2 separate regions of the Homo sapiens genome follow, and region 1 is linked to region 2. Evidence: fine-mapped expression QTL. Tissue or cell type: whole blood. Region 2 holds a variant in brackets; the other region holds the start of a gene. All regions are shown on one strand. Distances are between the middles of the regions.

Region 1 (7,355 bases), 53 kb before region 2:
CTTTATGATATGTGCATTATATCACACACACACACACAAAGATGTTTAAAAAAAAAGACTTGAGCAATAGATGCGGCAAGACCCCCCCACCCTCCACCAACTCCCAAATAGTACCAAATCCTGTGATAGGATAACAGGACAAAGAGAAATTATGGTCCATCAAAATTCCATGAAAAAGAGGGTCAGTGGCCACATCATAGTTCACCTTATCAAGTTACACCATATATGTCATATCAGCTCGGTAATTTTACATGTCTCCTATAAATACTTTAAAATACTAAAGCAGAAAGTTATCAGAAATGACTTCCTACTAATACAGAAATCTAATTTGAAGATTGCACTTGCACTTTAATGAGTCTAAGAAAACATGAAAAGTATTATCAGCTAATTTTCCTCCAAATCTGAAAAGGAATAAAGTAGGTAAAAAAAAATCTGACCTATAGTTCCTTTTTCAAAAAGGAAGGCTCTCAGGCCTTCCTTTACAGGTGGCTCACACCTGTAATCCCAGCACTTTGGGAGGCCTAGATGGGAGGATCAAATGAGGCCAGGAATTAAGAGAACAGCCTGGGAAACATAGCAAGACCTGGTCTATAAAAAATAATAATATATAATTTTTAATTAAAAAGATTAGTATGGTGGCCTGTGCCTGTTGTCCTAGCTACTCAGGAGGCTAAGGCAGGAGGATTGCTTGAGACCAGGAGTTCAAGGCTACAGTGAATTATGATCATACCACTATACTCCAGCCTGGGTGACAGATTGAGATCTTGTCTCAAAAAACTAAACAAAATGAAGCCTAGTATCTTTAAAAAAAATTTTTTTTCAAGTTATAAGCCTGCATTACATTAAAAAGTTTGGGTTAATGTTTAAATTTTGAAGACACCTTTGGCCAGAGTTGGTTAATTTGGTATGCTCTACTTTATTAAAAACATGAACTGATAGTCTACCGTGGGATTATGTAGTAAGTGCGGTAGACATTACATAGTCTACATAATCCCACAATTATCAGTTCAAGTGTCTTAATGATAGACAAATGTTAATAAGAAATACACTCACAATCCAATCAAAACTATGCTGGTGCTGATTTCCACTTTGTGTCTACTGTCCCTTCATCTCAGTATTTTTCCTTTTTCTTACTTTTTAGCCCAAATACATTTTTTAAATCTCAGTAGCTAAGAAAGTTCAAAGCAGTTTGAAACAATAGATTAAATTATCTATGATCTCACTGCTGCCCCTAAAATGAATACTAAGTATAACATTTGCAATACTGTAAACTCAGTGATATGTTTATGAGAAATTGAAAAACCAGCTTTAGTTATTTTAAGGTAGAGATAAAAGAAAAACCTAAGTTTTACTAAAAGAAAAAAAATTTCAGGGTAAGGATTCTTACTTTAACACGAAACTGTTGCATGAATTTGAGAAACTAGTGCAGATTACCAGTCCTTCTTCAAAGGGAAAGATTATTTTCTAAATCTCCAAATAAAGCTGCTTTGTGCTTCAACCTACTGTCTCTTCCTGGAGTCAGTATACTGCAATGCTTTTATCTTCACTCTGTGATGTCAGCATAAAGCTGCAAATAGATGTTTCTAAACTGAACATACTAAGCAATCATTAGCTATGCTGTCACTGCATAGCATTAAAGGACAACTCTACTTTATGGGTGAAAGAACTAAAAGGTTAGAGTGGTCACTGTGATACACACCAGCCAACCCTTTCCGTTAGCAATAAATAGGACTCAAAAGCCAATGACACACTATGGAATCTCCACTGTTTAAAGAAACCTTAAGTTTATATGCAGTTATTCTGAATTTAACAGGGCCTTTAAAAAACAAACACAATCCATGCATTTCCAGGGAGAATCTTCAGTAATCATACGTTTGCCTATTATGCTGTAAAAAGTTTTAATTCTTAATACTGCAAGATTCGTGATCTAATATCTTCACTGCATTAAAAATAACATGAAAAGACCAGAAATAAAAGAGAAAAATGAACCTAGCCAATCATTACTGTTTTTTATTTGTGTAATGTTGGATAAAGAATTGAAGTTACACAGGGAACAGTGTACATTACACACAGAGATAGTTCAGTTTCACTATCAATCTCTCTTGAACCTGAATCCTTCCCACGAGATGAACACTCGGTAAATATTAAGGTGTACTTGATAGTTGGGAAAGCCACACCCACAACTAGCATACCTAAATAGATAATAGCAGATTAATTTCTTCTGAATGACTACCAGCACACCTCTTGAAACCCTGATTTACTGAACACCTTAGAAGACAACACCCGGCCTATCGTTTTGGAAGAAAAAAAAGCTGGGCATCAAAGGAACATGACACACATGCAGAGAAAACGGCCAAGTACCTGGGACTGTACTGCGTATTTTTACTATATTCTCTCTTCTGATTTCCACAGGTAACAAGATTATCAAGTGAAAGAAGTAGGATTCTAATCCAGATGTTCTGACTCGAAATCCAGGACTTTTTCCTCTAAACAAAATCAAGATGGGAATATTAGGTGAAGTTGTTAAACTGTTAACAGCTAAGCAATACTCACACCTGCACTGTTTCCCAAGATTGCTACTTAGGGACACGTAGAAGGGTTTTTGTTTTGTTTTTGCCATTTTTCATTACTGATGGAGACATAAATCTGAAACCCCTTCCTTACCAACCAAGGTTTATGAAATGCCTTGACGTCCTTGAAAGACAACATAAAGAACAGTATCCACCACTCCAAAGAATCACTTCTAAGGAACTTAGAATCACAGTAATGGAAGTGTTTGGAAGAGGGTAACAAGTCTTCACAACAGTAAATATAAAACACCCACATACAGTCAACTTGAGACGAAAAACGAAATAGGCGATTGAGTCTAGGAAAGATTCTCGAGCAGGTAGGGCTTGGCTGCAGTTCACACGCAGCCCAGGCAATGGGCTCGAATTCAGACGCTCTCGAGGCACAGCCCCCACGACCCCCGCTGACCCCTCTTTGCCACCTCCAAGGTCCCGGAACCGAAGGAGGAAGGCAGGGAGAGGAAAGGGCTTGAAACCCGTTCCCCAGCCCTCCCCTTCCTCCGCGCCCTCAAAGGAGCCAGGCGGGGAGCCCGCTCGACCTCGACCTCCACCTCGCACTCGCCCTCGCCCCCGCCACGGAACGTGCAGGAAGGAGCGGAAGGCTGGCAGCCCCACCGCACCGCCACCGCGACTCACCGGTGTGCCCCGAGTACCCCTCAGACACTTACCCCACTTATCCAAGCCTCAGGCCACGCCCTAACAAGGCTGCTGGAGCTCTGGCTCAGGGGCCAACTTTTCCATAGCGGGGTCCAACCAGCCAAGAGTGGGAGGAAAAGACCGCGGTGAGAAACACAGCCGACGCCTCACTCAGCGGCCGTTTCCCCAAACCCCTGCGGAGCTGACACATCAACAAAGATGGCGGCGACACTGAAGCCGGCCCGGTTACAGCTGAGGGGGCGGGGGCTCCCTGGAGGAACCAATCAGCGCAGCGCGGGCGGGGTGACGCAGCACACCTTGAGGTCCTGGGTAACCTGTCTGCAGTGGGCTGGGCTGGCGGAGCTCACCTCCCACCTCCCGGCCCAGGAGGCCCCACCTTGCGGCCCGAGAGGCCCCGCCCCGCACTCCGCCTGGCTGGGCACCCACGCCTCCGCGACCTGGAGAGCCGGGTCTCCTGCCCTTTGGTCGGGTTCTTCCTTTCAAGCTCCTCCGGACCCACGCAGCCTGTTTCTTTCTGCAGGACGCTCTTGTTGGCTATTACTCCTCCTCACCCTTTGGCCTGCATGAGTCAGGGACATAAAGCAATAAAAGAGAATTTGAAATTGTGGCTTCCCGGCTCTCATGCGGAAACCTTGCACCTTACGTGGGCGGAGTCGGCTGGAGCAGGCTACGATGGGGGAGACCTCTGGGGGTTCCATAACAGCGCGTTCGTGTCTTCAGCGTGGCGCTGCTGCCATTGTTTAATAATAAACTGTCGGTGCCTTCGTCTCTGGCTTCAAGCTGAGCGCATTGATGGTAGGAAGTGTCCTCTCCCGGCTGAGTAACCTGGCACGCAGCATGGCAACAAAAAGTGTATTGGGTACAGTTGCCTCGCCCGGCCCAGAGAAGGAAGGTCAGCAGTTCAGTCTCTGGAGGTTTCGCAAACCTCCTCAGTCCGGGGAAACGATGTTCTTTGGTTTAGGTCTTACACATATCTCATGAATGAAAATAGCTGATGCAGACGATTCTGCAATGTAAGAATTTGTAAAGCAAAACTTACTACTGTTCTGTTAAGCGTCTTCGATACTGTTGGCAAAACACACACACGGAGGTGTAATGGCACCTCACTCCTCCTTAAATGAAGGTACTACACTGAAGCACATTTTGCAGTTAAAGTGTCTTGTCATAGAAAATAAATGATTTGACTTTAAAACAATAAATCGACCAAGCCTTCCTAGGGAGACATTAATCCAAGGGGAAAAAACTGAAGAAACCTTAAGCTGTTTTCGGTACTCGTCAGTAATAACATAGGTATTACTATTTCTGAATATTTCTGAATTTATAATTAGTATAAAGTATATAAATATATCTTTGTGAACCAAGTTTTTCACCATAAGAGAAAAGAAATACAAATATAAACCAAAGACATTATATTAAAATTCTGCAATCCTATATTTGAATTTACAAATATCAGAATTAACTCATGGTACATTTTTTTCGTGAAAAAAAAGGTGTGTCCACTGAAAACTCTTAGAACAGTGACCAACCCATTGCACACTCCTATTCCCCAGATTGTGATCTCTAAAGAGCATTGCCCAAAAAAAGTTACCTTGGCTTCTCTTGGAGGTTAAGTGCTGATTCCCAGTAGGGGCAAGAAATATGCAAGATAGCCTAGGACATATTGCTTGTAGCAGAAAGCAAGGAAGAAAAGCAAAGATAACATGAACTGTACCCAAAAGACTCAGAAGGCAGTTCAAAGATGCCCCAACTTCTCAAACAGGACAAATTTAGCATTCAAAAATAATAACAGCAACTGGTTGAGACGCACTATGTAAAAAAATCAGTGAGTGCATTTATTTTTTTTAATGTCATTGACCCTCTTGGAAAGATGCCAACAAGTCATTACAATCTGAGAACTGATAAAGAATCAAGCATTCATCCTACCTTTCCTGTTGCAAACTGAATGTCAATCAAATAGTCAATGTGGGGAAGCTCTTCTCTGTAGAACTCCATGTAATAATTGCAGAAAGAAAGATAGATGATCACCATTTTGCAAACCCTGATGAAATAATGGATCTAGGTAATGGTCATCTGTGAATCTAGAACCATTAGATGAAAAACTGATAGGAAGCTTCGTATTGTAATGGATGGATGGGGCTGGCACCACTTGAACCTACTAGATCAATCTTAATATCCTCCAAAGTGAAACAACTACATACTATGTATTTTCTGAAATGCTACAATAGAGAAGCACAACACCACCTGTGAAGTATTCCTGCCGGGGGATGCAATCAACAAAATTGAATGGAAAAAAAAAAAAACCCTGCAGTTACTGTAATAAATAAATTGCAAGAGAAGTACAGGATTTAAAGAGAAACCCCTTTTTAAAATATATCACTGAGTGCAAATACAGGATGTTTTGATACTGATTTGAACATATCAACGATTTAAGATAACATCTGAATGGCTGGGTGTGGTGGCTCACACCTGTAATCCCAGCCCTTTGGGAGGCCAAGGTGGGCTGCTTGAGCTCAGGAGTTTGAGACCAGCCTGGACAACACAGTGGGATCCCATCTCTAAAAAGAAAATTAAAAAATAACATTTGAGGTATCTGGAAATGTTTAGTATTAATTTTATGATATTAAGAAATTATGGCCAGGCACTATGGCTCACACTTGTAATCCCAGCTACTGAGGCAGGGTGATGGCTTGAGTCCAGCAGTTCAGGACTGCAGTGAACTATGACTGTGCCACTGCACTCTAGTCTGGGCGGCAGAGCAAGACCCTTTCAGAAAGAAAGGAAAGGAGAGGAAAGGAGAAAAAGGAGAAAAGAAAGGAAAGCAAGAGAAATTATTGTTTTTAAAGTTGGGATATGTTTTGGTGATATTACTTAAAAAGTGGTAATCTCTTAAAGACACCTACTTACAATATTTTTGGATGAAAAGATACAATATCCCAGAAAGTAATAAAGTGCTTAACAAACAAAATACCACCTGATGATAGTATGTGAAGGAACAGAAACCAACTGAAAGAGCTTCCTGTGGCCAAAGCTGGAAAAATCTGAGCAAGGAAATACAGTAGTTTTGGATTAGAAAAGTATAAAATAAGAAAAAAAAAGTATAAAATAAATATCCGAGTCCGTTATTAAATTAGTAAATGGAGAAGAGACAAATCTCCCATGCAGAAGAATTTCAAATAATTTCTGCAGATACTGCATCCTCAAAGAGGGACAACATAACTCCCTACTCCTTAAATGTGGGCTTCAAATAATAGCTTCCTTCCAAAGTGTATAGTATGAAAAGGGAAGGGAAAAAAAAGAATATAGTAGAAAGACCCAACAAACACTACCACAGCCAGATGACCAAATCCTACATCAATTGTCATAATCATATTCATAGGATGTATGCTTGATATGATGCAATAAAAATGGCATTTTTACCTCTGTGGTCTTCCTTCCAATAACCCGTAACTCCTTTCCTACCAGCAGAAAAACATCAGACAAATTCCAAAAGTAGGGCATCCTACAAAAGGCCTGAGAGTACTCCTGGAAACTTGACATCAAGGTCATCAAAACAAAGTCTAAGGAAGTCCCATGGCCAAGAAGAGCCTAAGGATCCATGAAAACTAAATGTAATATGATATCCTGATGAGATCTTGCATCAGAAAAGGGACAGTAGGTAAAAACGAAGGAAATCAAAAAGATGGGCTTTAGTTAATACTGTATCAATGTTGGTTCCTTGGTTCCTTAATTATAACAAATGTATCATGCTAACAGACCATGCTAATAATAGGGGAAACGATGTGGCTTCTGTCAGAACTCTGTACAGCACCTTCTTTTCTTTCTTTCTTTTTCTTTTTTTTTTTTTTTTTGAGACAGTCTTGCTCTGTTGCCCAGGCTGGAGTGCAGTGGCAGTGATCTTGGCTCGGTGAAACCTCCGCCTCCTGGGTGCAGGCGATTCTCCTGCCTTAGTTTCCCAAGTAGCTGGGATTACAGGCGCCTGCCACCACACCCAGCTAATTTTTTTTTATTTTTTTATTTTAAGTAGAGACGGGGTTTCACCATGTTGGCCAGGCTGGTCTCGAACTCCAGACCTCAAGTGATCTGCCTGCCTCGGCCTCCCAAAGTGCTGGGATTACAGGCATGAGCCCCCAC
Region 2 (7,355 bases):
GACCCTGTTGTTTCCTGGACGGCACTTCTGCCCCCCACACTGTGTTAGCTAGATTTCTTCTTCCTTCGTCCCACCTTGTTTTTTGGATCCCCAACTTCCCTTTTGATTTACTCCAGTATTTGGGTGGATCCTGTCCTCCAGAAGCTGAGAAAAGGTGCATGTAAGACAAATTTTCTGTTATCTCCCATGTTTGAAAAAGCCTTCAGCCTAATAGTTAATTGATAGGTTGCCTGGATGCAGAATTCTAGATTGGAAATGGTTTTTCACTTAAAATTTTGAGGCACTGCTTTTATTGTGTTTTAGCTATTGGTGTTTCTGGTCAAAAGATTAATGTTATTCCGGATTCCACAAACTTTGTATGTTTTTTCCGCCTTTCTGGAACTGTTAGTATTCTCACCTGTTTTGAAATTTATGATGTGACCTTAGTATGGTGTTTCTTTTTCTACCGTTTTGCTGGGCACTCAGTGGGTGGGCCCCTTACATCTAGAAATTCATGAGCTTCAGTTTGAGAAACTTTCCTGAATTAATGCTTTTAGTTGCTTTTGTTTTCTGTTCTGTTAGGAGCTTCAAGTCTTCTAATGCTGAATTTGAACTCTGCTAAATGTCCTCTTCTCTCTTTCATCTTTTTTGTTCTTAAAGAGATTTCCTCAATTTCACCTTCCAACTTTTTAAATTTAGGTTTTCATTTCTATCACATTTTTAATTTCAATAGCTTTTTTTGTTTTGTTTTTCATGTTTATGTGTTTTAATACTACCCTGTTCTTTCAAGAGTGGAATGTCATTTCTCCAAGGATATTACTGTCAGTCTTCTAATGTTCATTGTCATATTCCTCCTTGGTTTTCTGCCTTGGTTTCCCTAAGGTCCTGTTTTGTTTTGGTCTCCTCTGTGATGTTAGAGGCTTTCTGCAAATCTCTGGTGATCCTATGCTGTTCCTGTATTTAAGATGGGGCACTGAGAAGTTACTGGGAAGTTGCTTTGAGAGTGGGCAGGGGCTTTTCCACTGATGGCCTTCACTGTGGGTGATCTGGCTCTGCCATCTCACTGCAGACTCCCAGTGTCGCCATCTTGATGGGCTGTCACATGGACTGGTGGCCTCCTGCCTGGAGTGCACAGCTTGCCTGCCAGTGTTAAACTCTCCCTTGTCTACTCTGCCTCACGTTCTCCAGTCCATGCCCTCTGTGGTTCATTCTCTCAGGAGAGGAAACCTCCAGTCTTCTGCCCTCAAGTAGCAGCATTATTAAAACATGGGAACACAAAGCTCACCATTCTCTTTAGCAACTTTAAAAATAGGTGTTATATGCAAATGAGTGTATGAACCAAAGCCTATTCAGATGTCTTTGCAAGTAACTCTGCTTCCTTGGCCAATCTTCATTTCCAACTCCATCTTAACTCCTGCTTTTGAATGAGCAGCACCAATCGTTGAGACTTCAGGGGTTGGGGATTTGTGATGCAAGCTGGGATGCTTCTTGGCTTCCCCACTGCCAACTTTGGTTGAGCTACCATGGCTCTACTAAATCATTTTCATTCAGGCATCTGCTTTCCAGCTTCCAATATTCTGTTGTCTTTTCTCTTGTTCTCTACTCTATTCTACGCATTTAAAAAAAAAAAAAAAATCTGGCCGGGTACAGTGGCTCACGCCTGTAATCCCATCACTTTCGGAGGCTGAGGCAGTAGGATAGCTTGAATTCAGGAGTTCAAGACCAGCCTTGGCAGCATGGCAAGACTATCTCTACCAAGAATAAAAAGTTAGCTGGGCATGGTGGTGTATACCTGTATTCCCAGCTACTCAAGAAGCTGAGGTGAGAGGATCACTTGAGTCTGGGAGGTGGAGGTTGCAGCGAGCCAAGATTGTGCCACTGCACTCCAGCCTGGGCTGCAGAGCCAGACCCTGTCTCAAAAAAAAAAAAAAAAATTCTATTACATTTTTCATAGGAATGTAGAGGTAAATGCTTGTATTTAATTTGAACTGTAACCAGAAATTTTGGCATGGATTTTTAAGTGATGTAAATATAACTATGAATAGCCATCTTAAAGTAGGAGGAATCACTGACTGTAAGTTCTTACCTGAGATTTCATTCTGTTTTCAGGTGATGATTTTTGGTATCGTGCAGTTGTTCTGGGGACATCAGACACTGATGTGGAAGTGCTCTATGCAGACTATGGAAACATTGAAACCCTGCCTCTTTGCAGAGTGCAACCAATCACCTCTAGCCACCTGGCGCTTCCTTTCCAAATTATTAGATGTTCACTTGAAGGTAGACAGCTAAGTCACTTTCCAATTTAGGTTTCTGGGTATTTTTTTTTTCCTCTTTATGTTTCATAGCTCTAAGTCGGAATCAAATGGGTATTTCCAGTAACTGCCTTAATGTTTTTAAATATTAAGAGTTTTCAAATAAGTTTCATATTCTTTATTCTTTATCGAATTCTCACAAAAACTGTGTTCAGTCAGTCTTTGTTTTGTAGATTAGTTTCAGAGGGCCAGGGTTCAGAGATTCGGTTTTGCCCCTGGTTGCTAAGCTAGTAAGTGGCAAGGCCAGGATGTGAAACAGGGTGTCTGGTGTCTGTGAACCAGGGTGTCTGACCTCTCATTTGGGGTCTTTCTGCTTCGTCACATCTCTCTTTAGGGACTAAAGGCATTCACATGACACCATTTTTGGCTACCTTATGAAAGATAAATCTGCATATATTCAACTCCTTAGTTGGAATTTGAACAAAGTGAACAAAAATACTTAAAGTAGCTTTTTACTGTCGCTCCTGATGTCCTTATGCAGAGGACTTGCAGATAATACCATACCGATTGCTTCATGGTCCTCTTAGGTTTTGACTCAGAGTTGGAAAATTATCTTTGTTTCTCCTGTTGGAATATATGAAGGACAGATGTGTCTGTTTCGTGCCCTCTAGTCCAAGATTAGTGCTTGATGCCTTGTTAGGTGATCAATCAATATGTATTGAATAAATTTGTCTTTTGTAATGCAACAGCAGTAGTACATCAGAACACACCTAAATCCAGCTGAAGTCCAGTAAGCCTTTTGCTTATTATTCTTAGATAATTTATCTAAATTCTGTCTTTTTAAAAGGGACTAAAAGACTATAATATCTATTTTTTCCAGGATTAATGGAATTGAATGGAAGCTCTTCTCAATTAATAATAATGCTATTAAAAAATTTCATGTTGAATCAGAATGTAATGCTTTCTGTGAAAGGAATTACAAAGAATGTCCATACAGTGTCAGTTGAGAAATGTTCTGAGAATGGGACTGTCGATGTAGCTGATAAGCTAGTGACATTTGGTCTGGCAAAAAACATCACACCTCAAAGGCAGAGTGCTTTAAATACAGGTATTCTTTTCAAGTGTTATTAATAACAGATGTTAAGTGTGAGGAATAACAGATAATCAATTTAGTTGACTTGACCTTTTCTCACTTCCCATGCCATACTCTCTCCTCCTCCTCCACAAATCCAGTGGCAGGGTTCTGATTCCTGTGGCTGCCTGGGAGGGCCGCCTTGATGGAGGCAGTCCTCCGAGTCCAGATAGTCCTTAGATCAGACTTGTCAGCACTGCTGTGGGAATTGACACCAAGAGCTTTGAAAATGCCAGGCATTCTGCGTGCTTCTTATTTCCAATTTACTTTCTATCCTGATCAAACTGAGAAGTCATATTTTTGAGATTCCATCTTCCTGGTACTTCATAAGATGTATATTTGACAGACCTGGCCTCAATCAAAAAGAGAGATGATTGACAACCAAAACCTTGGAGACATGGGTTGTTAATGTGGTCAAATCCAGACCATGGTAGTAGATAATCTCAAAGCCCAAATGGATCCATCCA[G/C]GTCTTTGTAGTCGGAACCCATGCGCAAGGGGGAGAGCTATCTGTATATGTTTACACTCCCAAGTTTTTCTTCTTTACATTATGTGTTATCTAATGGCTTATTTTTCTTGTGCTTTTAGAAAAGATGTATAGGATGAATTGCTGCTGCACAGAGTTACAGAAACAAGTAGGTAAAATTTCCTTTAAGTGAAATTATACTCCTAACGTTTTTAGAAATTAAATCATATGGTTTCTTTTTCACCCACAGGTTGAAAAACATGAACATATTCTTCTCTTCCTCTTAAACAATTCAACCAATCAAAATAAATTTATTGAAATGAAAAAACTGTTAAAAAGTTAAGTAAGTTAAATCGTATGTTTTCGCCTCTTCTGTGATCACCAATAGGACATCTTCAGGCATATTGGCAGGATAGAGCTAATGGAGTGAAACCTATTGTAAGGCTGTACTTTCGTGATTTAATGACCTGAGGTTTGGTCATAATGCTTCTGCTGTTTTTGTAGGTTTATCTGATCGTTTTCCTTTGCTACTGCTAATGGAACTGAACCCCCAGGGGTATTCCAGTTGTAATAGCCTTTCCTTACTGTTGTTTGGTTCTGTGAATGCCTATGTTATTGATATGTGGAGGGACTTGTAAAACTTGTTGTGACATAAAGCTTAGCCTCAGATTTTTTGTCTAGATCTGAAATTAACTCAGAGCTCACTTATGCACATTGCTGTAAATATGTTTAGCACTTTTTGCGAGGGGTATCTAAAGGGCCAAGAACGGAAAGTGGATCTAAAGGGCCAAGAACGGAAAGTGGGCTGCACTGAGGGTATTTTTCATTTAAAAACAAAACATACTCCCTGCTTTTGGCTGTGGTGATTCTAGTGTCTAAAGAACATACTGGTGAGTTTTAAACCAGTGTTCCTCCCCACCCCACCCCCATATTTTAAATGTCTGGGATCCTTTGTTGTAAGATGGTTCTCAGAAATAAATTTTTGATTAAGAGCCAATTAGAACTTCTGATCAGGGCTGGGGGTGGTGGCTCACGCCTGTAATCCCAGCACTTTGGGAGGCTGAGGCGGGCAGATCACCTGAGCCCAGGCGTTCGAAGTCAGCCTGGCCAAGATGGCGAAACACTGCCTCTACTTAAAATACAAAATTAGCTGGGCATGGTGGTGCACACCTGTTAACCCAGCTACTTGGGAGGCTGAGACAGGAGAATCGCTTGAATCCAGGAGGCGGCGGTTGCAGTGAGCCAAGACTGCTATTATACTCCAGCCTGGGTGACAGAGTGAGAGTTTGTCTCAAAAACAAAACAAAACAAAACAAAAAAAAAAACAACCTCTAATCTCAGAATAAAGTTGTCTCTCCTCACCACTTTGAGTTGTTACAGTTCCAGCCAAAAGCAAAGGAACTTTGATTTACTTAATATGTGCACTTTTGTTGGTTAACAAATTTATATTAAACTGTTTGGAAATAGTTCAAGAGGTGGCTATAATACTCTTCATGAATCTTTTATGGGTGTAGTAACTCTCAAGTAGGAACCAACTGCCAACTGTGTTAAAACATATCTTTCATGTGGTAATAGACCGTTTCTTTGCGTTTTAAGAAAGGTCAATTGAATTATAAGCTAAATGTAATTAATGCAAGATCAACTATCTTGACTCTCATGTTTCCTTTTACAAATTTTGGGTTATTACAACTTTCAGTCCTTTCTAATACATTGTCTTAATACTGACTGTTTTGTATGTTTAAGCTTAAAATCTTTTAATCTTTTTTTTTTTTTTTTTTGGAGACGGAGTCTTGCTCTGTCACCCAGGCTGGAGTGCAATGGCGTGATCTCGGCTCACTGCAAGCTCCACCTCCCAGGTTCACGCAATTCTCCCACATCAGCCTCCCAAGTAGCTGGGACTACAGGCGCACACTGCCACACCCGGCTAATCTTAAACTTAATGGTGATTTTAATTTCATAGATCAAGGAACATGCAATGACATGGATTTCTGGAATTTAGTCCTAGTATCAAGTCACTATATATATATATATTTTTTTTTTATTTTTTATTTTTATTTTTTTTTGAGACAGTCTCGCTCTGTTGTCCAGGCTGGAGTGCAGTGGCGCTATCTCAGCTCACTACAACCTCCGCCTCCCGGGTTCATGCCATTCTCCTGCCTCAGCTTCCCAAGTAGCTGGGACTATAGGTGCCCGCCACCACACCCAGCTAATCTTTTTGTATTTTTAGTAGAGACAGGGTTTCACCGTGTTAGCCAGGATGGTCTCGATCTCCTGACCTCGTGATCTGCCCTCCTCGGCCTCCCAAAGTGCTGGGATTACAGGCGTGAGCCACTGCGCCCGGCCACCAAGTCATTACATTTTTAACCAAGTTGGTTGGCCTGTATGTTCTTCTTATCTGTGTAACAGGCATTTTTCCTAAGGATATTGAGTGTGCTTACACATAAAACTTAAAGTGAAATTTCATTGTTTCTTGATAGATTTAAGACAGGGCTTAGTAGCTTTCAAAAGAAAACTTGATTTAAAGCATAGTAGTTGAACTGGATTTTTCCTGACTGTGGGAATAAATAGATATTTTATTTACATTTGAATACAGTGCAATACCTTGTGTTTGGGTAGTACGTATTTACAAAGCATTTTTACATCTACTCACATACTTAATCTTCACAATGCCCTTGAAAAGAAAGTAGGACCCATTTTACAGTTAAGGAAGCTGAGGCTCAGAGAGGGTTACATGACTGTCCAAAATCACATACAGGCTGAAACACTAGGTCTTACGACTTAAAACAGTTGTGTCAACTTCCCTGAGCTGCTACGTGTACAGTATCCTTTTAGATCAGATCAGTTACATAGGGCATGAAACTAGAGGGTTACATTATTAGGAAAAAATAATGTACATGATTGCTTAAGCATTACTTCATTGTGGTGAAAATAGAGCTGAATATTTACTCCTTTAAATTATTCTTTGAGATAGAATGGGTGTAAAAATGTATTTTGGCTGGGCATGGTGGCTCAGGCCTGTAATCCCAGCACTTTTGGGAGGCTGAGGAGGGCAGGTCACATGAGGCCCAGGAGTTTGAGACCATCCTGGCCAACATGGTGAAACTTTGTCTCTACCAAAAAAAATATAGAATTAGCCAGGTGAGGTGGCGTGCACCTGTAGTCCCAGCTACTGGGGAGGCTGAGGCAGGAGAATTGCTTGAACCCAGGAGCCGAAGGTTGCAGTGAGCCGAGATGGCACCACTGCACTCCAGCTTGGGCAACAGAGTGAGACCCTGTCTCAAAAAAATAAAATAAAAGACAAACACATGTATTTCATCATCTGGAGAAATTTAATTGTTAGCAATTTAATTGTAAAATTGCTAAAACAGAAGTGCTGTGGTGATATGAACATAAAACCCTCTGTAATCTGTTGCTCAGGTGATGTTTCAACACACAAGTTAATGTCAGATATCTTTTATATATAAGGAGAGTGCAAACAACTATATGTTATATTTGTGAAGGGGAGTATAAACAGCTGTACTTAGCATA

Evidence for each region. PIP is the estimated chance that this variant, and not a neighbour inherited with it, causes the effect.
Region 1: CCDC186 starts here. The variant in region 2 is fine-mapped to the expression of CCDC186 in whole blood (INTERVAL, PIP 0.95).

Annotation. Positions count from the first base shown.
Region 1 is chr10:114,170,780-114,178,134 of GRCh38, forward strand. It overlaps CCDC186 (coiled-coil domain containing 186), which reads right to left and starts at 3,424. Exons shown (of 16, transcript NM_018017.4): 1 at 3,236-3,424. It overlaps MIR2110 (microRNA 2110), which reads right to left and starts at 3,400; the gene lies at 3,326-3,400. It also overlaps a transcript of TDRD1 not described here. RefSeq lists enhancers at 3,106-3,634, 3,230-3,429 and a silencer at 3,490-3,759.
Region 2 is chr10:114,223,961-114,231,315 of GRCh38, forward strand. TDRD1 (tudor domain containing 1) reads left to right here. Exons shown (of 25, transcript NM_001395205.1): 22 at 2,089-2,256; 23 at 3,112-3,339; 24 at 3,950-3,996; 25 at 4,078-7,355. The coding sequence ends at 4,170. Among named protein-coding and RNA genes, the nearest start is that of VWA2, 12 kb to the right of the region's middle. The variant G/C (reference allele first, on the strand shown) is at 3,831.